Regions from separate parts of the Homo sapiens genome. Here region 2 is linked to region 1. The links come from fine-mapping of genetic effects on gene expression. A gene starts in region 1. The other region holds a variant in brackets. All regions are shown on one strand. Distances are from middle to middle.

Region 1 (16,970 bases):
TGAGGGGAAAAGGAAGACCATGGGGCAGAGGAAGAGCATGGGGGCAGCTGATGGCCCAAGGAGAAGACACTTCAGAGAAGGGGTCTGTATTAGTTTGTTTTCACACTGCTATAAAGAAATGCCTGAGACTGGGTAATTTATAAAGGAAAGAGGTTTAATTGACTCACAAGTCAGGAAATTTACATTCATGGCAGAAGGTGAAGAGGAAGCACCTTCTTCACAAGGCGGCAGGAGGCAGTGAGTGGAAAATGAGAAAGTGCCACATTTTAACACCATCAGCTCTCCTGAGAACTCACTCACTATCAGGGGGACAGCATGGGGGAAACTGCCTCCAAATCCAATCACCTCCCACTAGGTTCCTCCCTTGACACATGAGGATTACAATTCAAGATGGGATTTGGGTCAGGACACAGAGCCAAACCTATCGGGGTCTCAGTCTGTCTTGCAGCTCCCCTGGGGCTGGGCTGAGTGCAGATCTGCTGGCCCTGCTCTACAGCACGTGGGGGCTCTACCTGTACGCTACCATCTGTTGCTTCCTGGTGGTGGTGGCCTGCTTCCTCAAGAGGAGGGCAGATCTGCTCCTGCCAGCCCCCCACAGGACCCTGTGGAGCCCTGGCCATCCTTCCAGGATGAGGACATGAAACTGGCTCCTTGCCCTTCTTGCTGCTTGAGTGGCAAACCTCGGGTCATCCCTAGGTCTTGTCACTGCCCCTGCTTCTAAATGGAGAGTGTTTTGCCAAACCTTCCTGGGAGAGGCCCTTTATTTGTTCTATGCTGATAAAGCCAGATCAAGACATCTTGGCAAGCAGACAAGAGTGGCACCCAGGAAGGGTGAGTGTAGGGTGCTGGCCTTCGGGCTTGCCTGGAGCTGGGGATTACTAGAAAGCAGGGATGTCAGGGCTAAAGTCAGGAGAAGGTGGTTACGCTGGGGGTGTGTGGCTGGCTTGGGTCGGGGCATAAGTGAGAGCCAAGGTTTTTCAGCATGCAGCAGGGGCAGCTGACACCTGGCCTAGGGGCTGCAGAGCCCATGGGTTGCTCTTAGTTCCTGGATCCAGGGGGAATTCTGGAGCCGGGGTCTGGGGCTGCCTAGGGGTGGAGGTGGTGGGAGGCGGGGGGAGGGGCGGGAGAGGGGGCCTTGCATGGCAGGTGAAGGACAGGAAGCCGGCCAGGGGACAGTTTGCAGTGGTTGCTGCCATCCCCGCCTCTACCCCCGAACCCACCCCTACCCCCACCCTGGTGCAGGGTCCGGCCTGAGCATGTGTCCTCTGCTTTGACCTCAGCAGATCACAAGATGGAAGTCACAATTACAAGTGGAAGCACCCCGTCGGTGTGCCACTCGAGTCAGCAGTGACCTGCAGCTTCTGCTTCCTGGAGTGTGGGGTGCCCACCCAGGAGAGCATGGAAAGGCGCACACCCCTGACCTTGAGGGTGCTGGGAGATGGGGGCCAAGGTCCTGCTGCCCTGCAGGTACCCTGAAAGGTGGCCTAGGAGTCCTGCCTGAACAGCTGCAGAGAGGGAGAGGAGGAGGGAGACAGAAGTGGAGAAGAAGGAGACAGAAAGAGATGGGGAGAAGGGAGTGAGATAGAGAGAGAGGAAGAGAGATGGGGAGAGAGACAGAGGAGCCTGAGAGGAAGAGTAGGGAGAGAAATAGGAAGAGAGACTAAAAGGCAGAGAGAGACAGGGAGAGAGGTGCATGAGTAGGAGGTCGGGTCACTCGATCCCAGTTCGCAGTGAAAACCGTAGGTCACCATCGCCTAACCACACATGCAAGGAAGTCTTCTGCCTGCTGCTTGCAGTTCTTGAGAGTTCCTTCTAGAGAATAAAACCTTTGACTGCTGCCCTTCCTCAATGGATTTTGATCGTGTTTTCTGGTGAACGGTGATGTCTCGCCTATTGCCTTCCTGGGCTCAAGGATCCACCAAAAGCTGACACCTCTTCTGGGGAGGCTCTGCAGTGCCTTCATGTCACTAGGTTCCCCAGGAAGCTTGTGAACTTACATTATTATGTAAACTGAAATTATTCACCCTGCACCACCCAAAATTATCTTTCATACCTACATCCACCAAAGGGTCCCATAGCACACTTTGGGAACTGCAGACAGTAAGCCTGGAGCTCCATTGCGCACTCCATCTTTTCACCATCCGTGGGCTAACAGGCTGTGTTAGTTTGCTAGGGCTGTCTTACAGACTGGCCACAGACTAGGCACCTTCAACAACTGAATCTTACTGTCTCACATTACTGGAGGCCATGAGTCTAAGATCAAGTTGTCAGCAAGCGGGTCCCTTCTGAGGGCGGTGCAGGAAGGCTTTTTTCCAGGCCTGTCTCCTGAGGTGTGGGTGGCTGTCTTCTCCTTGTGACTCTTCATTAAGGGTGATTCTGGTGAGAGCTCAGATGAGGAGAGCTGGATAGAATGTTTGTAGAATATGGAGGGGGCTGGGTGTGGTGGCTCATGCCTGGAATCTTAGCACTTTGGGAGGCTGAGGCAGGAGGATTGCTTGAGGCCAAGAGTTCAAGACCAACCTGGCCAACATAGGGGAGACCCAGTCTCTTAAGAAAAAAAAGAATATGGAAAAGAAAGGTCATTCTGATAAGTCTCAGATGGAAATGAAGAACATGTTATTGGAAACTGGAGGAAAGGCGACATTTGTCACAAAGTGACAAAGAACTTGACTGCATTGTGTTCATGCCCAAGTGTTTTCTGGAAGGCAGAACTTATGAATAATGAGACTGAAATTTGCTAGAAGAAATATCTAAGCAAAGTATTGAAGGAGCAGCTTGATTCTCTTGAATGTGTATGGGAAAATGAAAGAAAAGAGGAATGATTTAGAGACAGAAGTTATCAAAAGGGAAGCAGAACTTAAAGATTTGGGAAATTTTTATTCTTCTCAGCCTGTCCATATTTTAACAAATAAAGTGTGGGAGAGAACACAAAGGTTGTGAATCAGGAGACATGGATCAGGACTGTACTCTTCACCAGGACAATGAAAGAGCAACCCGGAAGGTGTTTTGTAAATTGCTTGGGCTGCACTCTCATCACAGGACCATGTTGCCAGAGCATTGAGGGCAGTACAGTTTCCAAGGAAGGCCCTAGGGTGCCCTGGGGACCTTGGGGCTTGCTTCCCAGCAATCCCTGAAGTCACTGGTCCCCACATTCTGGTGTGGCACCCCTTGGTTGCTCCAAGTGTTGCTCAATGGGCCCTGGTGCAGTGGGGGATGTGATGTCACCTCTCCAGAGGGCACAGGCAGAAAACCCTTTGGCAGCATCTATGTGGCGCTAATTCTGCAGGTATGAAGATTTTGCCTTTTCCTTATAGAAACTGTGGAGGCAATGAAGAAAGTAGCAGGGGTGGATGTGTAGCTGTCAGTTGAAGAACCTCCTATCTGTTGATATAAGAATGTGATTGGAGCTAGAAGAGCCTCTTAGAGAATAATCAGCAGCATTGAACCAAAAGAAACAAACAAGGGAGGAGGAGAAAAGCTAAAACCGGTTCGGGAATATTGGCAAATGGTGAGATTGTTGTACAGTAGTCCCCCTTTATCCACAGTGTGAGTTACCTATGGTACGGTACAATAAGATATTTTGAGAGAAAAAGAGCTACATTCATATAACTTTTATTACAGTATGTTATAATTATTCTGTTATTTATCTTTTACTGAGCCTAGTTTATAAATTCAACTTTACCATGGGTATGTATGCATAGGACAAAACATAGTATATATGGGATTTGGTATTATCCATGGTTTCAGCACATGCACTGGGGGGGTCTCCAAATGGATCCCTCTTGGATAAGGAGGAACTATTGTACTTTCAGGAAAAATGATGAGTGTTTTTTTAAAAAAATGTTGAGTTTATTTGTCCCATTCCTCTTTTTATTGAAAGACTCAGCTTTTCTATCCAATGTTGTAGTTTTTAATCTTTGGGTTTTATACAACAGAAGTTATTTTAGGGAGGGGGGTAGTTGTTACATGAATATGTACTAATTTCTGCCTTTTATTTTTATAGTTTTAGAAAATGTCTCCAAGGAAAGGGAGGCTTATTTCTTCTGAGTGGCTGGCTTAAGTCACAGGCTTGTATCTGTCAGTAATTTGGCCATAGTCATTGGCATTTTAGGTCACTGCCTAGTGCACACATGATTATCTATGTAGTATATAATCATAAAATGATTATATGTTGTATATATATATGATTATATATACATATATATACACATATATAATCATATATACATATATATGTATACATATATACTACATTACATATGTAGTATATATATAATCAGTGTACATATATACTATGTACATATGTACAGTATACATATATACTATGTATACATCATATATGTATAATCAGTATACATATATACTACATTATATATGTAGTATATAAAAACATTTTATACCTTAGTAGATTTTTGCCTTTTGCTCACATTGATTAGGCTACAGAATATTTTAGAGCAAAGGCGAAGAACTTTTTCTCCTGGAAGCTGCCAAGGGTGGTGTTCAATTTTGAACACGGCACAACCAGAAAACAAATTGAATTTTTGTTTTTCTTCTGTTAACTAAAACTCTTTATTGACTACCAGAAATGATTATTCATTGCAATTTAACAAGTATTTGTGTTCCTCTTGTGTGCCACAAAATTTGCCTAGGTACTGTGAGTGTAAAGATGAAACAGATAAGATTACTATTCTTGTTGAGGCTCAGTCTAGTCATTGTTTTTTAAACAGAATAGAACATATCAGAGTGGGACACCGTAAGGGAAAGAATGATTTGATGAAGTTATTTCACATACTGTGTGTGTATATACATGTACAAAATGTTTCTTATTGTAGGTCTTGTTCAAAAAAGTTTGATAGCCATTACTCTAGTGCGGTGGTTTTCAATTGAGGTGATTTTGTCCTTCAGAGGATATTTGACAATGTCTAGAGATATTTTTGATTGTCACAGCTTGGAGGGTGCTACTGGCATCTAGTGGGGTGGAGAGTGGGATGCTGCTGACCATTCTACTATGCACAGGACAGCCCCCACAGCAAAGAATGATTCTGCTCAAACTGTCAATTTTGAGAAACTGCTGCTGTTAAGAAACTGATTCTAGTGGAAGAGACAGGCACGTAAACACATGAAAGAGAATAGGGACGGGAATTAGAGGGAAGGTGGAAGGTGAGCTTGGTAAGGAGAGGGAAAGCGGGGGAACCACAGTTACTGACTCACCAGCTCTACTGGGCACTGTCCTGAGTGGGGAAATAATTTTATCATATGTATTTGTGCAAAGTATTGTATGAAATCTTTAAAATGGCACTGGAAGGGGTTGGTATTATCCCAACCTATGAATGCACAAACTGGGGTTAGGAGTGTCTAAGTAACATACCTGAGGTCACACAGAAAGTTGCGAGCTGGGGCCGGGCATGGTGGCTCATGGCTGTAATCCCAGCACTTGGGGAGATGGAGGCAGGAGGATCGCTTGAGCCCAGTAGTGGGCAAAAAAAGTGAGATCCTGTCTCTAAAAATAAAATAAAATTGTAAGCTGGGATTGATGCACTATTACTCTGAAATACGTTGGGTCAAAGAATTTGGATGATCAATGGACAAGTTTTGTGTCCCAGAGGAATGATGAAGTGAGAAAGTTGAAAGTGCTGAAGAAAGAACTCCATAAGCTACATTGTGGGACTTGGGCTAGCTAGGAAAGGGAAGCAGGAAGCAAAGAGAGCAACTGATAAATTGGGGGAAGATGTGAAAAGCTCAAGAGTCTGGACATCTTAGATGAGATACATGCATTAAAAAAAAAAGAAAGAAAGAAAAAGTAAAAAAAAAAAAAAAGAGTCTAGATGTCTTGATGAGTTCCTAAATAGAAATAACAAGAGAAGAATAACTAAAAAAGGAAGCCATGGGCCTTTTGGAGTGGAGTATTACAGTTTAAGACTTCCAGTACGGAGCCCCACAATTAGGGGTATGGACAAGTGAAAGTCTTGGAGTATTGAGCAAAGAATTCTATTGAATGGAACATGGCCACACCATACCTTGGTGTGATCTCAGGTATTGGATAGGTTGGCTGTAGATATTCAGTGAATGTGGGAGAAGGGCCTATATATCTATTGATGACAGAAACTGAGAAATAGAACATAGAATATTGGCTTGTGAGGAGGAAGGGTTTGGAGTAATAGGAGAGCAGTCACTGAGTATGTGAGGACCTAGGAGAACTTAGAAATCTTCCTTCTACAGCAGTCCCTATTTGAAAAGCCCTCAGGGAGATAGTTTATTCAGAAAATAGTTTTGCTTAGCTAAGATAAGAATGCGATTATAGAGGAAAAAGTGAGAGAATGTTTTACAGTGGAAAGGAGGTTCCAGGAGCATGAGGTGAACCTGGAAGGGTTCAACAGTAGTGCCATGAGTTAATAGAAAATAGGGAGCATTTTCTATTCTGGGTATGTGTGTGTAGAGGTGGTGTACATTTTCAGCTTCATAAATGGATACAGATGAGTGGACATATATATATAATATATTATATAATATATATTATATATATAATATATTATATAATATATATAATATAATATATATATACTATTAGTTCTGTCCATCTAGAGAACCCTGATTAATACAGCATTGTATTTTACTAAATTTCTTATTTCTTGTTATGCACATTTAGTTTTTCAATACATTGATTTATTAAATTTCTATCTCAATGTGATTTGTTTATACAAAATTGAATTAGTGAAATATTAACATATTTTAGAGATGTGGAAAAAATACCAGGTATGAGTTTAATTACTAGTCAATGAATTCATTCAGATAATTCAACTAGGATTAAGCTTTTTAAAAATTAAAAATAGTAAAAATTCATATTATTTTAAAGACTTTCAATAAACGTTTTTGGTTTTTATTTGCTTTAAGAATTTCCTATGCGAATTAAATGATGTTGATTTTGTTTACTTTAGTAGCACATGCTCTTTTAGCCTAGTGGATCATTTTGTTTGGTTTGATTGGAATAAGATTACTCACTAAGTATACAAAGAGGGGGAGTTTTACATTCAAGTAAGATGTCAAATGGGCTTTCAGTTGTGTCCACAAGAGCTGAGGTCTCTCCAGGCCCTTTGCGGCTTAGTTGCATGAAGAGCATATCTAATATCGAATACAATTCCAGGCACTCTTCCAAGTGTTCCACTTGTATTATTTCATTCAATTTTACAGCAACCTTTCAGGTGTCTATTATTAGTACACTTTTGTTTTCCCCCAGAAGAAGAAACTGAGTCATAAAGACCTTAACTTGGGACAATCACGTGTGTAGGAAAGGGGTACCAGGATTCAAACCTGCAGTCGGAAACAGGGTTCTGCAAACTCACTACCGTACTATTCTGTCCCATCCACTGACACCGTACTTCGATTCAGAGAACTTCACGTCCTAACTGTGGCAAAACGACGAATGTGCTTTATTTGCAACACGTGCAGATAAGGACCCTTACTCTATTGGCAAGAGTAAGGCTATCTGGGTGGGAGTTGGGCGGGTCCTGTCTCCTAGGCAACAGCACATGCACACAAGCGACCAATAATGAGCCCCTCTCCAAAGACCCAGGAAGGTGATGTCACTTCCTTCGTCTGGGTGGTTGCCCCAGCGACACGTTGGGCCGAAGAGCGGTGTTGGGTACCCGAGAGACCCGGCGGTGGGGAAGTCACTTCCTCCCGAAGACGCTGTTTCCTAGCAACCGCCCTCCGCCTCTGTTATTAGCCCCTCCTCCTCGCTCGGTCCAGGACCGGCTCTGCGGGCGCCGCCAGGCCCAGACCAAGGTGAGCAGCTCCTACCCGATGCTTGGCTCTTGATTCTCAGGGTCGCGGAGAACTGGCCGCGGGCGTCCGGGGCCGGGAACAGAAAGCGGGACCTGGGGGCCATGGGGGATCCGGACAGAGACCGCGCTTGGACGTGCACGGGCCTGGCGTTCGCTGGTGCTCAGCATACGGCGCGGTGAGGAGCGGCGAGCACCCGGACGTCACCTGGCCTGGTAGGGAACGGAACCCGGGGCGCACAACGCTATGGGCGGCCCTGCCAGGCCTCTGCTCCGAGTACGGGAAACCGCGATTTTAATGCGGCTCATCGCGAAAGCTTCGTCGTTTTGTCTGGCTCTCTTTAACACTTTTGTGAGAGGAAAAATTGGCTTGCAATACATCTCGCTGGCTGTTTGCGGGTTAGCATTACGATCTTTTTCTTTGAATAGCGCTGTATGCAAATATATAGATACATTTTTTTTTTGGTGGTGGTGCTCATAATTTTTACGCCGACGATCCTTTTGATGGCCTTTTAAATAAGACGTGACTTATTTTGAAGGCAATGTTATACTTTAGAAGAGAGGTGAAAAATAAGGTGTTCTATTTTAATTGGCAGCATTTTGTCGTATTAACTTGTAATCATTTATTTGCAGACTTTTTAAGTAGTTGCAAAACTATTTTAGGATAACTTCCATTTGAATTTTTTTAAACAAGCTTGTTATGAGAATTTGCTATTTCTTTACAAGAACCTTTTTAAGTGAAGATGTAGCCCAATGTTCATATCAGATGCTTTTCTTTGACCTTTGTGGGGAGAGTAGAATCAAATGTAATAAAATAAATTCTGAAGCATGCGAAGTCTGATTTGTTTTGTATATTTCAGCTACTATCAGAAGTTGAATTCTAATAATTAGCTATTTTATAAAGGTAACGAGAAAAAATACACTATGTCTGATGAAGTTTTTAGCACCACTTTGGCATATACAAAGAGTCCAAAAGTTACCAAAAGAACTACTTTCCAGGTAAAGTATTTTTATTTGGAATCATTTCACAGTGTAAACACTGTATTAGATGGGTTGAAATTGGTGATTCTAGAACAGTCCTATATAAAGCAGGGGTAAATCTTATATTACTTTTGAGGTTTTGCACATGATCATGTTTGGGCTCCATCCAGTATTACAAACTCCCCTATATGGTTTTAAGACTACCAAAGTAGCCTCAATACTAGTTTCCTACTAAGTTAAAAGTTGAATCGCAACCTTAAATTGCCATTTTTATATAAAAACTTTTTTTTCTGTTGTAACATAATGTTTAAGTTTTTTTTTCTGTTGAGTCACTGCAATTTTGAACTCAGCCTCTAAGTTTGCAATATTGATTGCATCCATTTCTGAAATATGCCGAGACAAAAGCTCTTAAAAATACCAATTTCTTTCAAAATACCAGTTTTTAATAAATTATAATCTAAATTGAGCCCCTTCTTATTTGTTACCCTCCAGCTCTAATTATAACCTGCAATTAATTTGTTCCATAATGTGTGTCTCCTCTAGTTAAACTGCGAGCTCCATGAGGAAGGGCTCTTGTCTGTGATGCTCTGCATTGAGTATGAGGCGTAAAGTGGGTACATGGCATAAAGTGAGCTTGCAGGAAATATTTGTTAGATGAATGAAACCTAAGTTTGAAAGCAGTCGTTAATCAAGCATTGTTTGTTTAAAGAATTACTTGTGAATATGATACCTCCATGTTTGGATGGAAATTGATTTCAGTATCTCATTTCAGGATGAGCTAATAAGAGCAATTACAGCTCGCTCAGCCAGACAAAGGAGTTCTGAATACTCAGATGACTTTGACAGTGATGAGATTGGTATGTGACAGTATGGAAACGTGAACCACTTTTCTTCTTTTTGCTTCCTTAGTTTTGTATTTAGCCAGCCCCCCAACCACCCATCCCCTCAATCACGTATGTTAAAATAATACCTAAGCATTCACTAATTTTAGATTTTCAACTTTTTAATTAGTAGAAAGCCACTCTTAATTTTCAGGAAGTTGTATGATTTTCTTTTTTTATTGTTGTTTTGTTTTCTGAATGTGTATACGAAAATATAAATTAATTGATGGCAGGTTTGCAGTAAAAGGATGGCTGCCAGTGGTAAACCACATTGAAGAAGACAGGTTCATCTTTAAGATCAACCCTAGGAGGTGCTACAGCTAGTTAGTAACTAGTCCCACAGAACTAAACTTCGGTGCACATTAGAAGTGCTTTTATAAAGCTTGCTATAAATCAGATTTTTTTTGGCTGTGATAAGGGGTAAATTTAAAAACCACAGACTCTTCGTGTTTCATATATCAGTACTATTATAATTTGGTTTCTCTTAGCTATGTAAACATATTAACATTTTAGTTTCAGGTATAAGCATACAGAATTCTAAACTTGGTGTTTTTGTTTGTTTGTTTTTGTTTTTGAGATGGAGTCTCGCTCAGTTGCTCAAGCTGGAGTGCAGTGGTGCAATCTCGGCTCACTGCAACCTCCACCTCCCAGGTTCAAGTGATTCTCCTCCTTCAGCCTCCTGAGTAGCTGGGACTACAGGTGCCCGCCACCATGCCCGGCTAATTTTTGTATTTTTAGTAGAGATGGGGTTTCACCACATCGGCCAGGCTGGTCTCGAACTCCTGACCTTGTGATCCGCCCGCCTCAGCCTCCCAAAGTGCTGGGATTATAGGTGTGAGCCACCGCACCCGGCCTGGTGTTTTATTCTTTAAAATTTGGTGAATAATTGTAATTGATTTCTGTAAAACCAGTAATAACCACAGTTAAATCACTGCTGTATAGTTAACTTAGCATTTCTTATGATTCTTAGTAAATCTAATATTCTGGTGTGGATGGAATTGTAGTTCCAAAATTTTTATGGAAAAAATATAATTAGTAATTACTAATTAAATTCTTCCATTTACAAATGTTCTTGATTTTACATGAAGAAGTAATTTGCAAATAAAAGTTTTACAGTCCATAATCTAATTTAAATGCTACATGACTGATTGTTAGGGACCTTTGGATGGCTTTTTCCAGAGCAAACAGTGTTTGGTTGTTTGGTACCCTACAGACAACACAATAAATACATTTTGAATAAATTAATGAAATTGGAATTTTTATTTCATAAATGTTAATGAGACGTGCCTGAGTTAGCTGTGTTTTTAGAGCTGCAAGTCTATTTATAAAATACATTTGTGCCTATTCATTGTTAGAATTTTGTTTGTAGCTTTTAAGGTAAACTTTGATTAAGTTAACGTAACCTTGACAATTTTTAAAAATACTGTTGAAAACATTTTTCTTTTCCATTTTTCAGTTTCTTTAGGTGATTTTTCTGACACTTCAGCAGATGAAAATTCAGTTAATAAAAAAATGAATGACTTTCATATATCAGATGATGAAGAAAAGAATCCTTCAAAACTATTGTTTTTGAAAACCAATAAATCAAACGGTAACATAACCAAAGATGAGCCAGTGTGTGCCATCAAAAATGAAGAGGAAATGGCACCTGATGGGTGTGAAGACATTGTTGTAAAATCTTTCTCTGAATCTCAAAATAAGGATGAGGAATTTGAAAAAGACAAAATAAAAATGAAACCTAAACCCAGAATTCTTTCAATTAAAAGCACATCTTCAGGTAATTTGTTAGGATTACTGTAATTGCATTTCTTGGAAGTTTATTTTAAGATAATCAGTCCCAAAATTTTTATATGGTAGCTAGTATATATTTAAGAAAAAAAGACAGACTTAACTTCCATTTTACAGACCTGTTGTATTTTGTCTAACTTCAATTTTACAGACCTGTTGTATTTTGTCTAACTTCAATTTTACAGACCTGTTGTATTTTGTCTTGCATCTAGGCTGTTGCCTGATAGAAAGCCAAAGCACAAAGCCAAAGCACCTTTAGTCATCCATAGCATCCATAGCTGTGGATCTCCAGACACCTAGACCTGTGAGCTTCAGTTTTGTTTGTAGGTGTGGAACTGGAATGGAATGCTGTCTAATCCCTCTCACACTCCAAAGATTAGAGTTACAGCAATATTGAGACTAATCCTTCTAACAGTCTTTGCCATACCAACATTGTGCCAGAAAATTTTCTTGACATTTGTATATTTGAAGGATGAGTTATGTTATTGCTGCTGTTGTTTGTTGAAGCATCCAGGCACTCCTTAAGAGAATCTCCATTTGATCTCTGTATTGCCTATGAAAATCTACTAAGATTCAGTTTTCCAAAGGAAAGTTCCTGGTGTGATCTGGGATTACAGTTAGTTCTGCCCACAATTTTACTGAATTTTAAGCATAAAGGAACAAAGATAGAATGAAACGGAGACCAAGTCCTGTCACATACCCTGGGCCACCATTCATGAACTTGTATATGCAAGGTTAAGGATTTTTTGTTTTTCATTCTTTGTATTTTATAAAGGAATTATTAGTTGATGTTAACCTTCATAAAAATCTCCTTGCATATCATCAGTAAATACAGTGCTGGTAAATATTTCATACTTTGCATATTAGATACCAGTGGTAACGTCAGACAAAACTTTATTTCAGGCATGTATTGGGGAACTGCTCCTTTCTTCCTGACCCCACAATCTCATTAACTTTGAAATGAGCAAAGGATGTAAGCAGAGCAAAGAACACTAGAATAATATCCAGGACACTGGGGGAAAGGCCTCTGTATATTATATATGACTTCAGCAAATAAGTTAAGCTTCAGTATCCTCATGATGAGGAAGCTAAAAATAACCCTCTTTCTATTCCTGCAAAATTGTGAGAGTTTATTGAAGTGCATCTCATAAACTATAAAAAACTACAAAAATGCAAACAGATGCATAATGAAACAATTAACTTGTTAAAATGTACCTTCTAAGTATAGTGAGTGAAATCAATGCTGGAGAGAAGAGGAACATAATTGAACTTCGTTATTAAGAAAATGCGAGCATATATAGCAACTAAAAATTTGTCTGAGACAGGTGGATGTATATAATTAGAAGTTTATGGTAGATAATCAGGAAAGCAATAATCCACCTATTTCATACCTTAAAAAAAAAAAAAACCTGTGGTGGGTTACAATGAATAAGAAAATACTGTATTTTAACCACAAGGTGGCATCAGGATCCTAAATGCTCTACTTATATATGCAATGTTATATTCAGTACGTGTAATATAAAAATAATTACCTAAATAGGTAATTGTATACATTGATTACCAAAAAAAGCGCTTTTCTTAAAGTATAGGCATTTTTTTTTCTTTTTGGGAACTTGACAGTACTTCTGGAAGTGGAATTTTTGTAGAAAATATATTAAAGTTGTCATTCTCAGGTTCTTCAGGTTGAAAAGTAAAAATTGAGGCTAGTGTTCCTAAGATAATATCTGGCATATATAATAAGTATTTAAATGAATAAATTAATATATGAATGATTTATCTTTGAAAGAGGGAATATGGTTCATGAGTTTATCCTCTAAATTCTTTGACTTTTTTTTTTTCTGTACAGGTTTGGAACTCAATGTTTTTAATGTGGTGAGATATTGCTGAGTAGCAAGTAATGCTTTATGAAACTATTAGAGCTTGAAGGTTTTCTCTGTCCTTGCTTGTCTTTTGTAAAAAGTATAATAACCAGACTTTATAGTCACTACTGAAGTGACAGTTGCTCTATAAAGTGAAAGTATTTTTCACAGGATATGTTTTTATTTTAATACTAACATGACTGAAATCATGAACTTTGGAGTCAGGATGCTTCTCCTTTAATCTGAGATCTGCAGCCTGCTAGAGTTTGTGACTTTGGGCATGAGACCTCTTTGTTCTCATTTTATTCATCTTTAAAAACGGGATAATAGTTGCCTGCCTCTAGGAGTTTGAGGCAATTAAATGAGTTCACATATTTGAAGTGCTTAGAATAGTACTGGCATAAATTTAGCACTCTATAAATGTTCTGATTATTCATTTTATTATTTAGCGTTTGTTTATAAACATGCTCAGCAGGTATAAAGTATCAGTCATGCGGGATGCGTAAGTTCTAGAGATCTGCTGTACATTGTGCCTATAGTTAACAGTACTGTCTTTTGCACTGAATGTATTAAGAAGGTAGATCTCATGTTTGTTCTTACCACAATAATAAAAAAAATTGACTCAACACCTTCTTTCAGGCATTATATAATATTCTGCTTAAACTGAGGCTCAAAAGACATGCAAGCATTTGTCAGGAGGAGAAGCAGGAAGTGGATATTCTAGGCAGGGGGATCAGCTTAGGTAAAGGTATGGTAGCAGGAGGGATTGGAGGGATTGTGGTATGTGTGCATGACAACTGTTAGCCCAGCATTTCAGAAACACAGATGACAAAATGGCTGTAGATAAGGCAGTGAAGGACAAAACCATAAAATCCGTTTTATGTTGTTTAAAGGCAGTTAAGCTTTTATTCTGTAGGATTGGATCATGGGGAGCCATTGAATAATTTTGTAGAAAGGAGTGATGTGATCTGATTTGGATTTTGTAAATATCATGGAAGCAGTGATCTAGGAAAGAGTGGATAAGGACCCGACAGCAGGGATGTAGAAAGTGGAATAAATGAGATATTTGGCAATTAGAATTGATAGGATATATTGATACTCTGGATTTAGGGGATAATAGAGGGAGGAATCTAGAGCCCTTGGATTTGGGGTTGAACATTTGGCTGGAGTTTAGGATGTAGCTAAAATTGTCAGCTACTTATAATAATACCAATTTGGTATGGTTGTGGAATCTTCTGGCAGAATCCATAAGCCCATTTTTAGGTAAATGGGAGGAAGATGTTAATTAGACCAATTTTGAAGTTGAGAAAAATGCATTTGTAGAACAATAGAAACATAAATATGTATAGCAGGTAAAATGCAGGCAAAAAATATATACATGGAAAGTCTTCCCATTGTTTCGAATACTGGATGCAAATCAGCATTTGATTCTTGATTTAAACTTAGAAGTAATGGAAAGAGTGAAATTTTAATAAATGCTAAAGAAGTTTTATGGACTCAGAACAATTAACTCATAAAAGATTCCTTCCTCTAATGAGAGTTAGCACTCCTATCCCTTGAGTGCCAACATCATCATCTTTGTCCTTATAATAGCACTTATAATCTTAGTAATCTAGTCTTGTAATTTTGTTTAGAAAAATCAACCTGTAAAGTACCTGGACAGGTCCATTGCCGCTTTGTTGATTATGAGGTTTAGTAACGTGTACAGGGCTTGGTACTCAAAGGCTTGATGGATGAGCCTCCTCATTTTATAGTGGTAGAAACTGGGGCAAGATTTTGTTTTGTTTTTTTATTTTTAACATTTTTTTTTTAATATTATAAGAGTTCACAATGTTGAAGAGTTAACTTCTTGTGACTGGTTACTTTCAGGATGACAACTGTTTCTTTACTTTGTTTTTTTTTTGTTGTTGTTGTTGTTTGGTTTTTTTTTTTTTTTTAGATGGATTTTTGCTCTTATTACCCAGGCTGGAGTGCAGTGGTGTGATCTCGATCTCGGCTCACTGCAACCTCAGACTCCTGGGTTCAAGCAATCCTCCTGCCTCAGTCTCCTGAGTAGCTGGGATTACAGGCACGCGCTACTAAGCCCGGCTAATTTTTTTGTATTTTTAGTAGAGACAGGGTTTCACCGTGTTAGCCAGGCTGGTCTCGAACTCCTGACCTCATGATCTGCCCACCTCGGCCTCCCAACGTGCTGGGATTACAGGCGTGAGTCACCGCTCCCAACATGTCGGGATCACAGGCGTGAGCCACCGCGTCCGGCCTGATTATTAACCATCATTTATTTGTGCCTTACTAGAGCTCTGTATAGAGAAGAGTTGTGGGCTTCATCTGGACTCTTCAGGACAGAGAACAAAGGGGCATAGGCACAGGAGGGAAGTATGGTAGCACCCAGAGAGATAGATAAAGCCATGGTCATTTTTTTATACACACACTTTAAGCATTTTATTTTTCAGCAGAAAACAACAGCCTTGACACAGATGATCACTTTAAACCATCACCTCGGCCAAGGAGTATGTTGAAAAAGAAAAGTCACATGGAGGAGAAGGATGGACTAGAAGATAAAGAAACTGCCCTCAGTGAAGAATTGGAGTTACATTCTGCACCTTCTTCCCTTCCAACGCCGAATGGCATACAATTAGAAGCTGAGAAAAAAGCATTCTCTGAAAACCTTGATCCTGAGGTTAGCACTACCACTAAACTGTTGAATTGTGTTCTTGAATTTATGCTTTTTTATCTGATTATGAAAAAGAGAAGGAGAGAATGAATTTGTGTGCGTGTGTGTGTGTTTTACATACTTTCTTCTGCAACTGATAAGGAAATAATTTTTAAAAATACACTGTATTCCACCGAGTCTAAAACTGCATCAATTGTAAGACGTAGCATTATTTTACATACCACTAAGGAAGAAGGAAATGCATCCAATTAAACTATAACACACCAGTGATTGTAGAGTTTATCCAGTTTTAGAGAAAGTAAAATGTCAAAAAGTGTTGCTTTTCTGAATCTATATAATAGTGTTTATCTTTAATAATTTTTTAAATTTATGTATCTTTGAATTATGTAATTTATGGCTAAGAACAATATAGTCAGTGTCATTTTATTTATTTGATTTTATTCACTCAACAAATGTGTGTTGAATGTTCATGGCACTCTTCTGTGTTCTTTGGGTTATGTTCCAATAGCATTAAATGTGGCCTTTCAGGTTTCCATCAGGGAATTTACTATGCATTGTTATTAAGGGAGAACACTTCGTTTTTCTCTTTGTATTTCACTATGAGAAGCAAACTGTCCCTTCTGAACATTTCAGAAGGGAAAAGTACAGGAAGAACATTTCTTCCCCATAATCTGCTTGGGCAGATTAGGGAACTGCATGCCACCTGGCCAAGCTTCTTTCTTTTTCTCATCGCTTGTCTGCAGTGTTGGTGCTTAAGGATCTGCTCTCTGGGAGGTGAGGCAGAAGGTGCTGAGAGGAGCTCTTTTGTGCAATGACTAAATGGGGGAATCCCCCTAATTCAGACTGGAAGTATTAGGAAGCACAATAGGCTACCAATTCAAATCTTGTTCTGCAGTTGAGCTTTACCAGTAAAGCTGACAATTTGATATACGCCTAACTGACACCACCATGCTGTTTCTTAATTTGTTCTGAAAACCAGAAGAAGAAACCCAAGCAAATACTTTATATT
Region 2 (16,970 bases), 42 kb after region 1:
TCTTCATTTCAGATTTTGTTCTTGAACCCACTTTATTTTTGACATAAGCTTTAGGGTTCTTGTTATGCTTTTAAAACCAAATCATATTATGATTTCTGGGAGACTTGTAGTAACCATACACAATAATGGAATCCATTCACTTGAAGTAGATATGATGAAATGACTCCCCATCTAGAGGTTGAGTTCAGTTATATTTCTGTATGCATGGCCATATAACTTTTAAAAATAACTCCATGGTGTTCATGGATCCCCTTTGAGGAAAGTGTACTGTGATTCCTACCCATCCCACACACAGTGTAACTTACTCTTCTCTACACTGTTTCCCTACCCTAAATAACTGTTATTGAAAGCCACACCTTTTAAAGTGTATACGTCTATTTTCCAACTTGAACGAGAGCTTTATGAGGACAGGAACTATATTTTCCGCATTTTGACATTTCTAGTTTATCAGTTGGTTCTGGATAATCTTTGGCTGATAGAATAGTAAGTTAAAAGTAAAATATAAAAATAGTGCATGAATATGGCCAGGTGCGGTGGCTTACACCTGTAATCCTAGCATTTTGGGAGGCCTAGGCAGGCGTATCACCTAAGGTCGGGAGTTGGAGACCAGCCTGACCAACATGGAGAAACTCCATCTCTACTAAAAATACAAAATTAGCCAGGTGTGGTGGCACTTGCCTGTAATCCCAGCTACTAGGGAGGCTGAGGCAAGGAGAATCACTTGAGCCTGGGAGGTGGAGGTTGCGGTGAGCAAGATCGCGCCATTGCACTCCAGCCTGGGCAACAAGAGTGAAACTCTGTCTCAAAAAATAAAAAATAGTGCATGAATGTTTGTGATGCGTGTATATTATATATATGAACAGGACTTTATAGATAAAATTTTAGAAGTTTTATGAGTATTAAAATAGAATTATAAATTATGAGTATTATAACTTACAGATAGAAATTTGACTTAAATATTACATTAATTTTTCAGTTTCAACAAAATAATCCTTTAATTGAAAAACCGCATATGTGTGTATCATTGCATTAAGTTGGGAAAGAAAATAAGCTCACCTATATTCTAATATTTACAATTAAGTAGATTAAGCCCCATCCAGAGCACTATTTTTTTTCTGTCTTGGTGTCCTTCCTGTGGCAATATTAAATTCAAAAAAAAAGAAACAAGCCCAGTGTTTACTGGTTCATTCAGTCTAAAAAATGAATCCCAGATAGAACTATCTTTTGAATGGAGCTGTAATTCAGATATACCCAAGCGTGGATGCTGAAGTCAAGGTCTACAGTGATGCTTCAATCCTGGTGAACGGATTGCATGGTTGCTTGTGGCTACTTTTTTCTAATTTTTACTTCAGGGGCTCTTCCCACACCCTGAGCTATTTTTCTTAAAATATGAATTTGTTTCTAACACCAGATTTTTCATTTTAACAGACACAATTAAAAGAAATATTTGACTTTTTTCTGATTCTACCACCAGAAAAATAATTGTGTATTGATAAACGTGTAAGGACAAATGACCTCAGTATTGAAGAGGCAAAATGGAGGGGCAAAGGTGATGATGAACTGGGGATACAGAGCCTACCTCTTCCTCAATAACAGCCAATAGTTGCCTTGACAGAATTTGTATTTTAAAATATCAGTGTCCATGTCAACTAAACAAACAAAACTCTTAAAGTGAACACTGCAAGGTCCAAATGAAACAGATCCGCAAGCCTTCCTGGTTATGTTTTCTTCTCCAGAAATTTCCAACTGGTGTGCTGAAGCACATACATGAGCTAAAGTGCACTGATAAACTACAAACGCTGGGGGTGGGGGGTGGGGGGCGCTCCTGTCAGGGAGTTACAGAAGCTCGGGACAGAGCCCAAGTTGAGTTTGTCCCCTCTGGCTCAAACTGCTTCATATAGGCTTCTAGGAGGGTGCCATATGGAGACTCGGGCTTACTGGTGTGCCATTTTGTACTTGCAGGTTACTACAAAGCGAGGGACATGGGCAGTCATTGCTCTACCTCGGCCATGAAGATCCTCAGTCATATGAAATCCATTTCAGTAGCCAGCTGTGGAGTAGGCTACTTCCCATGGATAGGGGCCTGTGGGCTGCTGAAGGGGTTAATTTCTCAGATGCCCAAAAAACATCACTGTAGGGGATCAATCGGTGTGGTTGGAAAAATTATAGGAAATAGACACAAACCTTCTTGGAAGGCCAGGGGGCTTGCATAGCTTCAGTCAAAGATTTGGCTGAAGGCAGCCAGATTCTCTTTTCAGGAGCCAGAGAGCGCAGGGCACAGATACAAAGGAATATAACAGAGTTTATCTAAATAGCTTGTTTACTCATGTGGTCCTAAGACTAACCTTTGATCATTCGCAGGCAGGATGGCTCTCTCTGGGAAGGCTGCCCAGGTTAATTATCCACAGGTTTGTTGACTCAAAGCCTTTGTCATTAATCTGTGCTGAATAAATGCCCACAGGGCCAGCTAGTCAAGGCGTGGGGCTGCCACAACTCTTTCTGTGCATGGCCCGGCACCCTAGCTGCTCTTTCACTGAATAATCAGTGAGTACGTTATTCATCCGTTGTGCATCACTATGGTGGCCAGCCTAATGGCCAGACTAATAGAAGCTGGGTGGTGCCTGGAGGCTACATGGAGTCTCCTGGAAGGTACAGTTCTCTATCTTCAAGTATATACTGCCTTTCATAGTTTGTGTGAGCTTTTAATGGCATCCAAACTAGCTGCAAGGTGACTGCACTATCCATTCCAACCATGGAAGTGCCATTCATCAAACCAGAACTCCATGATTATCTTGATACACTATATTTCACAAAATATTCAACAGGATTTGAAGTTTGCTTTGTCACATGAAATCTTAGCATTTTAATTGTTAATGAAAGAAAAGAATGCTGCTTGGCTACTTAAATATGATCCAATGGTAAGGATTTGATGATGCAGTATATGTTTTCAAAAATTGTATTATCTGTTTTTGCTAACAAAATGTTTGGTCTCTAAAGGTTTGATGAGATATTCTTTAAATGTCTTGATCAGGATTGCATGTGGACATCTCAAATATAAAACCTGATATTAAAAAGTCACACAAGCAAAGTTAGTCCATTTTCACACTGCCATAAAGATAGTACCTGAGACTGGGTAATTTACAAACAAAAGAGATTTAATTGACTCACAGTTCCACATGGCTGGGGAGGCCTCAGGAAACTTACAATCATGGTGGAAGGTGAAGGGCAAGCAAGGCACATCTTACATAGTGGAGGAGAGAAAGAGAGAGAGCAGGGGAAATGCCAGACATATCAAACAAACATCTCGTGAGAACTCTCTCACTGTTATAATAACAGCATGGGGGAAACCACCTCCATGATCCAATCACCTCCCACCAGGACCCTCCCTTAACACGGGATTACAACTTGATATGAAATTTGGGTGGGGACACAGAGCCAAACCATATCATTTCTGCCTCTGGCCCTTCCCAAATCTCATGTCCTTTTCACATTTCAAAACCAATCATGCCTTTGCAACAAACAGTCCCTTCCACCTCTGAGCTTGTAAAATCAAAAGCAAGTTAGTTACTTCCAAGATACAATGGAATACAGGCACTGGGTAAATGTTCCTATTCCAAATAGGAGAAGTTGGCCAAAACAAAGAGGCCACATACCCCATGCAAGTCCAAAACCCAGAAGGGCAGTCATTAAATCTTAAAGCTCTGAAATGATCTGCTTTAACTCCATGTCTCACATCCAAGGTACTCTGATAGAAGGTGTGGGCTTTCACAGACTTGGGCAGCTCTGCCCTTGTGGCTTTTGAGGATACAGCTCCTGCAGCTGCTTCCATGAGCTGGCGCTGAGTGTCTGTGGTTTCTCCAGGCACCTGGTGCAAGCTGTCAGGGGATCTACCATTCTGGGATCTGGAGAATGGTGACCCCCTTTTCTCACAGCTCCACTAGGCAGAGTCCCAGTAGGGACCCTTTAGGGGCCCCAGCCCCATAAATCCCCTCTGCACTGCCCTAGCAGAGGTTCTTCATGAGGGTTCCACCCCTGCAGCAGACTTCTGCCTGGACATCCAGGTGTTTCCATACATTCTCTAAAATCTAGGCAGAGGCTCCCAAACCTCAACTCTTGCCTTCTGAGACCGCGTAACTTATAAACAACAGAGGTTTAATTGACTTGCAGTTCCACATGACTGGGATGGCCTCAGGAAACTTACAATCATGACAGTAGGTGAAGGAGAAGCAAGCATCTTCTTCACAGGTGGCCGAAGAGAGAGAGAGCATGCAGGGGAAACTGCCACTTTTAAAACCATCAGATATCATGGGAACTCCTTCACTATCATGAGAGCAGCAGGGGGGAGCCACCCCCTTGATTCAATCAGCTCCCACCAGGTCTCTCTGTCAACATGTGGGGATTAGAATTTGAGATGAGATTTGGGTGGGGAAACAGAGCCAAGTCATATCACCCAGTATACATTTTCAAACACCTTATTGTGACATTTGATACAGGTTTATTATTTTCTAATAATTTTAAATTTTACTTTTATATAAAGAAAAGGCAATTGTGTTAACCAAGCCTGATATAGGCATTCTTAAAACATTCAGGGTAATTAATAATAACAATTTTTTTTCTGATACCTTATGACAAATATTGGGAACTAGCTCTACCATTCCCAGATAATCAGGTAACTCATGTCTCAGAGTACATAACCAAAGCTGTGACTCTTTCCAGAACAAAGAAGATCTGTCCAGGTCAACTTATCTTCTCCATGCTAGTTATAAAGGTGGTTGTCAACATTTTCAATGATATCTTCTTTTGTTAAAAGAAGAGAAAATGTCTAATCTCCCTGGGTAGTGGGCAAGTTTAGTAAATATTCCAAAGACAGCCAGGTGTGGTGGCTCGTGCCTGTAATCCCAGCACTTTGGGAGGCCGAGGCAGGTGGATTACGTGAGGTCAGGAGTTCAAGACCAGCCTAGTCAACATGGCGTAACCCTGTCTCTACTAAAATACAAAAATTAGCTGGTTGTGGTGGCACACGCCTGTAATACCAGCTACTTGGGAGGCTGAGGCAGGAGAATTGCTTGAACCCAGGAGGCAGAGGCTGCAATGAGCGGAGATCGTGTCACTGCACTCCAGTCTGGGCGACAGAGCAACACTCTGTCTTGCAAAAAAAAAAAAAAAAAGAAAAAAATTCCAAGGACACCAAAAATACATAGTTTTTTGTGAGATATAGGAATGATTTTGGTCAGAGTAATGATTATCTATTATATGGAAGCCCAGTAAATAGATGAGATATGTCAAGTGCTAGTCTTAGTACTGAGTATACATAAATGGAAAAAGCAAAGTTCCTGTGCTCATGCAATTTATTTTCATAGGGAAGAGAAACACTGAACAGATAAACAAGTACATATGTAATGTAATGTTCACCGATTAAAAGTACGAAAACCTCTAAGCAGGGTATGAGGATAGAGTGATAGAAGCTGTTACATAGGATTATCAGAAGTTTGTCTAAAGAATACTGAGATAAACCTAAAAAGAGTGAATGAGCAAACCATGTGAATACCTAGAGAATAACCATGTGAATTTGACCTGTGGGACCTCATAAGGCATGGCACAGACTTGGATTTCATTTTAAGTCTCACGTGTAAAATTGGAGAGTTAATAGCAGTGACTGCACAAGATCGTGTAACATAGATATTTTCCTACGTAGACAATAGACTTTAGGGAACAAGGGTGAAGAGTTTAAGAGCTGTTGCAGTTGTTCAGAAAAAAGATGAGAGTAGTTGCACAGAATGCCAAGTCATCAAATTTCAGTTGTGTTTTGAGGGAGAAACTACAAGATGTGTTGGATGAGGCTGTGGAAAAAAATAGAATCAGGGATGGCACTGAGCAACAGAATGAATGGTGGTACCATTTATTGAAATGGAGAACACTGGGAAATCAAGACTGGAAAGGAAAACAAAGAATTCTGGAAAAGTTAATTTCAAAAGAAGGTATCATGTAGCTAGTTTGGATATTCAAATCAAGGAACAAAACTCCAGAAATGTAAATTTGGGAGTCATCAGCATACAGATGGGATTAGATGGGATCATCTAGATAGTGGGTATAGATTAAGAAGAAAAGGGGGTCCCTGGCCAGGTGTGGTGGCTCACACCTGTAATCCCAACACTTGGGAGGTCAAGGCAGGTGGATTGCTTGAGTTCAGGAGTTATAGACCAGCCTGGGCAGCCTCGGGAGACCCTGTCTCTACAAAAAACACAAAAAATAGCTGGGTGTGGTGGTGCACACCTGTAGTCCCAGCTACTCGGGAGGCTGAGGTGGGAGAATCACTTGAGCCAGAGGAGGTTGAGGCTGCAGTGAGCCGTGATTGCATCACTGCACTCCAGCCTGGGCAACAGAGAGACCCTGTGTCAAAAAAGAAAAAAAAGGCTGGGCACGGTAACTCATGCCTGTAATCTCAGCATTTTGGGAGGCTGACGCAGATGGATCACTTGAAGTCAGAAGTTCAACAACAGCCTGGCCAGTATCCTGAAACCCCTTCTCTACTAAAAATATAAAAAAATCAGCTGGGCGTGGTGGCATGCACCTGTAGTCCCAGCTACTCGGGAGGCTGGGGCAGGAGAATCATTTGAACCTGGGAGGCAGAGGTTGCAGTGAGCTGAGATCGCACCACTGCACTCCAGCCTGGGTCTCGCAGCGAGACTCCACCTTAAAAAAAAACAAAAAAGAAGAAGAAGAAAGAGAAAAAAGAAAAGGGGTCCCAGACTGAACCCTAGGGTAACCCAACATTTTGAGGTCAGAAGGATGAAGGGACTCAACACCTGAAACTGAGAAAGAAAAGCCAGTGTGGTTAGAGAAAATCCAGGAGAGGTGCATTCCTTGGAAAGCAATGAAATAAAGTGCTTCAAGAAAGAGAATGACCAAGTAATCAGAAGACTGATGATTGACTTATTTGGTAATATGGAAGTCAGTGTTGACCTAAGAAATTAAGATTTCAACAGAGTGATGGGGATGAAGACCTGGTTAGTGTTTTCAAGAAAAAGAAGGGAGAGAGGCAATCAGAATCTAAGTATAGGCCACTTTTCGATAAGCTTTGCTAACAAGGAACAAAGAAAATTGGAGAGGGAATCATAGATGAAGGGGATATGGGGTCAAGGCTGGCTTTATTTGTTTTTAAGATAGAAGAATTTATAACTTATTTGCAACAATCATTTAATAAAAAATGAAATGGAATTATGCTTCCTATGCTTTTACAGGCAGCAGATATGGTAGCATTGCAGAAATCAACTAATTTAGGTGAAAATTATGTGTGCCATGCTGACAATAATGTTAGTATTTTCCCCTTTAGCAAGCACAATATAATAAGGAAACCATAATATTGAGTTATAAAGTTGAAATGCAATGTCTGTATATCATGCAGACTACTTGATATCTATTAAGGTCCTTTCAGGACAATGGTATAAATTTCTGCTCTTGCTAAAAAAATATTGACCAGCTGTAAAAGTTGGCAATAATTAATGTTTGTTTGGAATATTTACAAACAAAAAATTCAAGGCTTTGGATAAATTTCCCTAAGTAACAAATATGTTTATATGAAAATTCATTAAAATAATTATAATTTACTATAAATGAACAAGTAATCACAGAAAATATATTATGCAAATATACTTACACATAATAATTTTTAAATTGAAGAAAATACTTACAAGGAAAATAAATAGAAAATATAAATACTCCAGATATATATATATAGTACATTAAAATTTTCAGCTTAGATTGAATGTCTCATTTAAAACTACCCCCATACTAAGAAAAGAAAACAATGACCTTCAAATAAATTATAATTATTACCATCCATGAGTCATGACAGCAAGTGAAATCTGTCATAAATATATAAAAGCAGCTTCAAGGTGTTTTTCACAGGGCAAAAGTATATGTTTTATTAATGAGTCATATAGCAGAGTTGCTTATTTAGAAATTCCCAATAAGATGAGAAAACAAGTCGATGTGTTCTTCATTGTACTTAAACACTCAAACTAAACAAGACTATTACCTGTTTTAATTTAATTAAAAATTAAAACTAGGCCCTGTTTGTCCATTTTTGTTTGTGTTACAATTGCTTTTGGTGACTTTGTCATAAATTTTTTGCCAAGGCTGATGTCCAAAATGGTGTTTCTAGGTTTTCTTCTATGAAACTTTTATAGTTTTAGGTCTTACATCTTTAGTCCATCTTGAGTTACTTTTTTAACATGGTGAAAGAAAGGGGTCCAGTTTCAATCTTCTGCATATGGCTAGCCAGTTATACCAGCACCATTCACTGAATAGGGAGTCCCCTCCCCATTGCTTGTTATTGTCGACTTTGTCAAAGATCAGATGGTTGTAGGTGTGTGGCTTTGTTTCTGGATTCCCTATTCTGTTCCATTGATCTGTGTATTTGTTTTTGTGTCAGTATCATGCTGTATTGGTTACTGTAGCCTTTTAGTGTAGGTTGAAGTCAGTAGTGTGATGCTTCTGGCTTTGTTCTTTTTGCTTAGGATTGCTTTGGCTATTCAGACTCTTTTTTGATTCCATATGAATTTTATAATATTATTTTCTAATTCTGTGAAAAATGACATTGGTGGTTTGATAAGAATAGCACCAAGTCTATAAATTGCTTTGGGCAGTATGGCCATTTTAACAATATTGATTCTTTCTATCTATGAGCATGACCTAATTAAACTAAAGAGCTTCTACACAGCAAAAGAAATTATCGATAGAGTAAACACACTTACAGAATGGGAGAAAATATTTGCGAACAATGCATCTGACAAAGGTCTAATATCCAGAATCTCTAAGGCACTTAAACAATTCAACAAGCAAACAACAAACAACTCCATCCAAAAATGGGCAAAAGACATGAACAGACTCTTCTCAAAAGAAGACATACATGCAACCAACAAATACATGAGAAAATGCTTTACATCACTAATCATTAGAGAAATACAAATCAAAACAACGAGATACCATCTCGCATCAGTCAGAATGGCTATTATTAAAAAAAAAAAGTCAAAAAATAACAGATGTTGGTGAGGTTGTGGAAAAAAGGGAACACATACTCTGGTGGTGGGAGTGCAAATTAGTTTAGCCACTGTGGAAAGCAGTGTGATTTCCCATAGAACTTAAAATAAAACTATCATTTGACCCAGCAATCCCATTACTGGGTATATAACCAGAGGAAAATAAATCATTCTACCAAAAAGATACCTGCATTTGTCTATTCATTGCAGCACTATTCGCAATAGCAAAGACATGAAATCAACCTAGATGCCCATCAATGGTGGTTAAAGAAAATGTGGTACACATACACTATGAAATACTATGTGGCCATAAAAAGAAATAAAATTATGTACTTTAGAGCCGGGCGCAGTGGCTCACACCTGTAATCCCAGCACTTTGGAAGGCCCAGGCGGGTGGATCACGAGGTCAGATTGACAGCATCCTGGCTAATAAGGTGAAACCCCGTCTCTAATAAAAATACAAAAAATTAGCCGGGCATGGTGGCATGCGCCTATAGTCCCAGCTACTCAGGAGGCTGAGGCAGGAGAATCACTTGAACCTGGGAGGCAGAGGTTGCAGTGAGCCAAGATTGCACCACTGCACTCCAGCCT[A/G]GGTGACAGAGTGAGACTCTGTCTCCAACAATAACAACAACAGTAACAACAACAAAAATTAACTAGTTTACAGCAACGTGGATGCAGCTGAAGGCCATTACCCTAAATGAATTAACACAGGAACAGAAAGCCAAATACTGCATATTCTCACTTATAAGGGGGAGCTAAACATCGGGTAAACATGGACATAAAGATGACAACAATAGACACCGGGGACTTCTAGAGGAGAATGGAGAGAAGAAGATGTGGTTTGAAAAACTACCTATCAAGTACTAAGCTCAAGACTTGGGTGATGGGATAATTCATACACCAAACCCTATGTGCAGGTTTGTTGCAATTTACCCATGCAACAAACCTGCACATGTACCCACTGTACCTAAAAGAAAAGTTGAAAAAGAAAATGAAAACATTAAAACGTGATTAAATATATAGTATATTAGAGACTTTAAGGATTTAACCCAAATAATTTCAAATATACTTTCCCTTTTCCTTTCAAGTTATTTTAAAAGTTAACAGATAAAATGTTTTTATGTCTCTGTCTCATCATGTGGTGAACAAAAACAAAGAAAGCCCGTGAACAGAGAGCAGGGTTTTCAGATGTCAAGTGGCTTTCCATGTGGAAGCAGAAGTTATAAGCATGTGACAACCTATAGCCTTTTCAGAGCTATAATTATTTCTGTTAACTTTTGGAATTTAGTAAAAACACAGTCCCTTCTGACCTTTTCTGGGTTTTTTGATATCAGCTGTATAGACAAATAGCCTGAACTAAAAATCAGTCAGGTTAGAGTTCATTGTTACCACTATAAGTTACAGACATTGTCAGTTACTTAGCCAATAGCCATTCCTCAATTCTTCTTTGATAACAGAACCATAGTTATGTCTAGAGCAATAAGGTGCCCAGTCAAATGCTGACTTTGCATCTTTTCTGTGGCTATTGGTGACCAGATGACACAATTCTGCCAGTGCAACTTGAGTTGTCTTCTAAGTTTAAGTAAGCTTTGAATTTCCTAATAAAAGGACAGATACAGTGAGGTTTTCTACCTTCTTTTTGCCTTGTACATAGACATGATGGTAGGAACCACAGCAGTCATATGGTAATAATGAGGGAAAAGCAAGGGAATTCCAGATATATTGACTGCTGAAATAAAGCAACAACTGCTATTTCTGGACCTACATTCTTATAATAAAAATAAACAACTAGGTTTTAAAGCTGCTGGCAACTGGTGTTCTATTACGAGGAACCAAAGAAAATTCTGAATGACACACTCTTATTCTATTCATACACTCAGCAAAAACTTGAAACTGGTGTTCCATAATGTATACACCATTTGGATTCAGCAGTGTATTAGTCAAGGTAACTCTAGTTACTACAATAGGCAACGTTCCAAATTTCAATGGCCTTAATGCAATAGAAGTATATTTTTCAAGTACTTAAAACTCTAGGAAACAAAACCAAGGGTGGAGATGGTGGTAGTGGTAGCACTCAGTTCCTGCAGTCAGATTTGAGCCCTGCCATTCTTTTTTTTTTTTTTTAAGAGATTACAGGGATACAGATGCAATTGTGTTACATGAACATATTGCATGCAGTAAAGTCTAGGCTTTTCGTGGAATCTTCACCTGAATAGTGTACATTATGCCTATTAGGTAATTTCTCATCCCTCACCCTTCTGCCATCCCTCCACCTTTCTGAGTCTCCAATGATCAGAGCCTTGCCATTCTTTGGAAAATGACTCCCAACATTGAGCTGGCAGGGTGGAAACAGAACAGGTAGAGGAATTCATGGAAGGTTTTCACCTGCCAGATCTAGAAGCAGCACACATTCATGCTACTCATGCCAGTGGCAGGAACTCCATACCTGCAATACCTTACTTTAAGGCACATAAGATAGCTGTGGACCCAGAAGGAAAGGGAAACAGATGTGGTAGATAGCCAGTCTCTTCCATAAGTAACAAGTAGAGTTTTTAATGTATATTTGTCAAATTTTTCTATTTTGCTAAATATTTATATTATGTGTATATGTATATATATATACACACATGCAAATATGTGTAAATATGTGTGTATATATGTGTGTGTGTGTATATGTCAGATTTTAACATCTATTGGGTGCTTACTTTATTCTAAGTACTAAATGCTAAATGTTTTTGCAAGCATTTTATCATTATCCCTCCCAAACATCCTATGAAGTAGGTACTATTATTATCTATATTTTACTGTAGCATACTGAGGCTTAGTGAGTTGAAGTAATTTGCCCAAGAAAATAGAGGCAATAAGTGTTGGAGCTAGGGATCTTTCTTTATTCTGAGACATAACTCTATTTTTAAAAAGAACTTCTGCAATTAGGTTGTATTAATGATTAATTATGTCATATCCAGGCTTGACAATATGTATTGATGTCACTTACATAAATAGATTAAATGTCAGGCCCTCTCTCATAAATATCCCTTTCTTTGTATACCTGCCCACTACCTTTGGCCTTTTAGAAACAAGAGTGATTTTTAGGATTGTTCTAGATGAAAATATCTTTACTTCTCAATATTTGGTTGTATAAGCAACTAGCTTCAGGTATTTCTGCTTTGCCTGAATGTAATTCCCAGGTAACTGGGCAATGCCTGATTTGCTATATAGCTTACTTCAACCCTGATCCTCTTGGCCTTTCTGCTCTCTTCTACTGCCTAAAATTTCTCCACAGTCTTCTTTGTTCTCATAAATATTATTGCCTTTGAGGACTGCACTCTCCTTTAGTCCTATATAAAATGGGACTCAGCCAAAGTTGTCTTGATTCCACAGCTTGCAATTGATGCCAGTCTTCTGCCTTTTCGGTGAAATACTTTTTCCCTTCCTTGCTTCCAGCTGTCCAATTCAACAAATTGGTCTCCTGGTTATAATGACAAAAACACTATAGTATTTATATAAATTGACCAAAAAGGTTCTCTGCTCACCAAAAATAAATTATGCAAAATAACAATGACCTGTCCCCAATTTTACATGTATTTTACATAGTTTTACCTCTATAAATGTAATGTATAGCATAAATGAGAATAACAAGTGTCGAAGAGAGTGATGACTTTTCATTTTGCACATCAAGTTTAACTATATAGGATACAAAGAATGATTTGCTTCTATTGCTAAGTGTTTTAGAGATATTCAATTAATTTATTCTTCAGACAGCCCAATAAGTTTGGTTAATGTTAGTATCTTAGCTTTATGCATGTCTGACAGGAGTGAAATGGATACTGAATAATTTGTAATCAAATTCTTAGGAGTCTCAGATTTGAAATCCTAGTGTTCAAATAGTGTTTTCAATTCAAGCTACCATCCCTGCTTGTATTTTCAAAACTCACTGATAAACTAAATCAAGTGGAATTTACAGGGGTAATTTTTAGTGAGTTTTTAAAGAATTATTTACTATTGATGTATAACTTACATAGAGTAAAATGCTCAGATTAAGAATTTCATACGGTCTGTTTGAGAAATACGTACCCTCCTAACACCACACAGAATAGTTCCATCACCTCAGAGTGTTCTCTTTTGTCCCTTCCCAATCAATAGCCTCTCCACACCCTACTCCCATGTATCAACCAATTTAAAATATTTTTCCCTAACTTATCAGCTTGTGTTTCCATATATGAATCTTATATATGATGTTTTTCTTGTAAGAGTCCTGAGAAATCATATTTCATATTCAAAGAGTTTGCCTCAGAATAAGTAGAAATGAGCTTAGATTCTGACATAAATAATATTTAAACTAATTAGCTAACTCTATGATTATTAATCTATCATTCCAAGGATACCATTGCCTGTAGCTGTCGTGAATAGAGTATTTCTAACTGTTAATAATATCGCCTACACACAGGTCAAGAAGCAATCAAGGTTAACACAGAAGACAATGTAGCATCATTGTATGTTTAGATTTTTCCCTCTTTGCCTAGTGATAGATCATTTTAAATTGAGTTTTTAGCCACAGTAGGGAAAGCTGCTATGTTAATGCATAGCATTATTTAATAATTTACCCCAGTATCACTAATGAATAGACCAAAGAGGATCATAGTTTTGCAAGAAAACATAGAGTGGTATATGTATGTATGTGTGTATATATATACATATATATATACACACACATATATATATATACACATATATATATACATACATATATGATGCAGTGAATTTTGCAAATTTCCTTTCCAGTGTTGTTTATCAAGGAAAACTTCTTGTGAAATTATTTCACAAATTCCAGCAAAATGTATAACTGAGTATCCCATCCAAAATTGGTACGCAGTCATTTATGAATTTTGTCAGTGTATACCAATATATACCCGTAAATGCCAGACAAAATTTGCCCAAAATTACAATTACTATAAAAGAAAATAAGCACTATTTTTTAAGAAAATAATCTTGGAAGTAATTCAAAATTAGGATAATCTTTAACCAAATTCCATGGTGGGAGGAAAGTTGGAGTGTTAATAAGGGTAAAGTAGAAAACATGATAAATGTGAGATAAATGTAAACATTTGAATGTTTTTATTCATTTATATTGGTTCCAGAAATAATTTAAATGGGCTAACGGCCAGAGGTTCATCCAGCTCCTTACAACATAAAATATTTTTTAGAAGGTCAGCCTGAAATGTGACCCTCTGTTTGTGTAAGAATAAAATTGCTTCAATATTTCAATTATGTTACTCCATCTGCCAGTGATGAGGTTGTAAATATGTGATCCACTCAGTATTTTGTGTAATTTTATTGGTGGTGACATTTTTCATCTATTATGAAAAGAACAGTCTTCATCACTACCTTCTACCTTATCTCTCACTTCCTCTCCCAATTTGCATTATTTATACTAGAACTACATTATCATTATTTTAAACATTTACATTCCCCTCTACAACCACAGAGGGGAATTAATACTTAAGCACAGCTTAATTAGTACTTAAGCACAGCTTAATTAAGTATTAATTCTTAGTGAGTTAAATGAACTCAGAACTGACCACTAGTCCCTTCCTTTCTTTATTCATTACTTGGTTTTCTCAAGGCTACCCTGTGGTACTTTCTATAAAAACAATCTTGTTGACAATTATATTTCCTGAGTTCTTTTATGTTTAAAAAGATGTAGGGTTATGGCTCTTATATCTTGTGACAGTTTCGCTAAATATAAAGTTATAGGGTGTTTCTTTCCTTTCTTTAGTGTAGTCCATTGTCTTTTAGTGCTGTGAGTGTATCTATGAAGAGGTATAAGACTGGAACCAATTTTTATGCTGTATAGATAACTGTTACGGACTTAATGCCTATGTTTCTCCAGGTTTGTATGTTGAAACTCTAACCCCTAATGTGATGGGATTAGGAGGTGGGGTCTTTGGGAAATAATAAGGTTTAGATGAGGCTGTGACAGTGGAATCCCCAGGATGGGGTTAGCGTCCTTATAAGAAGAGGAAGAGACCAGAGCTTGTTTACTCTCTGCCATTTTAGGACACAATGAGATGGTGGCCATCTGCAAGCCAGGAAGCTGCTCCGCACCAGAACCTGACCATGCTGATATCCTGATCATGGTCTTCCAGCCTCCAGAGCTGTGACAAAAGGACTTTCTGTTGATGAAGCCACCTAGTCTGTGGGGCTTTATTATGGCAGCCCATGCTGATTAGGACAGTGATTTTTTCCTTTTGCAAAAATGATCAAGGGACTCTTTTCCTAGTGTTTGAACCTAGTAATATATACTTGGATATGTCACAGCTTGATCATTCTATACCAGTTTTTCCTGTGGCAGAGAACATTGTTAAAAAAATCTGTGGATCCTAACTGGATTTCATTCTGGAAAGTTTTTTGAATTATATATTTGGATATTTTTGTCTTTAATTCATCAGATTGCTTATTGAGGGACCCAATGATGTATACATCACATTTTCTGTGTCTGCCATCTATATCTAACATATTTTCTCTAATCCTTTTCATCCTTGCTTACTATATTTTACTATCCTCACTTTTCTCAATCCTACATTCTGTGTCATTACTAGGATTTAAGTGGCATCTATTCTATTCTCCTGTTGGTTTCAATGTAACCTTCATTTATGTGATGGTTTTGCACCACTTTTATCTGGAACTCTACTAGTTTATCATCCTCCTGTATTTTTTCTGTATCTCCCTTAACCTCTTAGATCTCTGGTTTGTGTTTTTTGTTAATTTCATGAAAACTTACAATTCAGATTGTTATGGATTGTCATTTCCTCAATGGAGATACTTGCATCTATCATTTCTTCTCACTTCTATTTCTTTCCTCTTTTCCCCACTAGCAGTGGTAGTAGTAAGGTATATAGACCTGTGGTAATTATTCTTATTTATTATTATTCACTTTGAATGACCTAAGTCAGTCCTGGTTCAGTTATTTTAAGGAAATTTATGTACTAAAGGGACCAGAGAAGGCAAAGTGAGCAGGATTTTAGTCTCATTCTCAGTGAAACTTCTGATGTTACGGAGTTGTGTGTATAAGCATGATTTTTCTTAGCATATTTTTCTGAGCACTCACAGCAGATTGGCCTGTCTAAACTGCTCACAATTCAGTTTCTTTCTACTTTTGTGTCATCTACATGCAGTCATGACATTTTCAGTTTTCTCTCTTAGATCTAACTCTCCTATTACTCTACAGAGACACTCAGTCTTCAACGATAACCTCAGTAAGATATGCACCTTGTTCTATTTAATCCCTTTAAGCCAAAACGCAAAGAGGTTTTTTTCCCTCGGTATGCATTTCCATTAGAAAATGATGGTGTTTTGCTAGTTTGAGATCTGCAGTAGCATGCACCCCAGTGGTATGGAGAGAGCTCTATGTCTTCCTAGACCCCAGTGTAATCTTTCCTTAGCAGCCTTTCCTTATATATTGTTGTTTAGGGCTAAGATGACCCCTTGTTTCATCATAGATGGATTTTGTATTTTCTATTTTTTAGATTTTTCTGTTATTGTGAGTTGATTTCTGTAGGAAGAAAATGACAGAGATGTCTTTATAATGCCATCTTAAAATTTTAAGGACATAAATGTGCTTTTGATTTTACAAATTTTTTTCTTTTTCCATCTCTATGGGTGTATGGCAGTTGGCAGTGGAGCCCAACATGCATCATGTGTAGCAAATTTTAAGAGGCCCTAAAATCCCACCAGCTGACCACACTATCACCTTTATTGGCCCCACTTCTATCTCCAAACGCAAAAAAATTGTTAGAGAATTTTGGAAAGTATGTTTAGGTTTCAAGTCATGAAGATAAACATCATAGCATTGAAATGGAGAGACAGAAACTCCCTCACAAAGCCCAGGGGAAAGTGCTTCAGCAAGGCGGAAAACAGGTCTTTCTCTCA

What was found. PIP is the estimated chance that this variant, and not a neighbour inherited with it, causes the effect.
Region 2: its variant is fine-mapped to the expression of MAP9 in lung (TOPMed, PIP above 0.99).

Annotation. Positions count from the first base shown.
Region 1 is chr4:155,367,583-155,384,552 of GRCh38, reverse strand. It overlaps MAP9 (microtubule associated protein 9), which reads left to right and starts at 7,588. Exons shown (of 14, transcript NM_001039580.2): 1 at 7,588-7,782; 2 at 8,639-8,777; 3 at 9,532-9,616; 4 at 11,097-11,417; 5 at 15,741-15,967. The coding sequence starts at 8,703. It also overlaps the pseudogene YWHAEP4. RefSeq lists an enhancer at 7,706-8,135.
Region 2 is chr4:155,325,249-155,342,218 of GRCh38, reverse strand. No RefSeq gene overlaps it. Among named protein-coding and RNA genes, the nearest start is that of MAP9-AS1, 20 kb to the left of the region's middle. The variant A/G (reference allele first, on the strand shown) is at 9,633.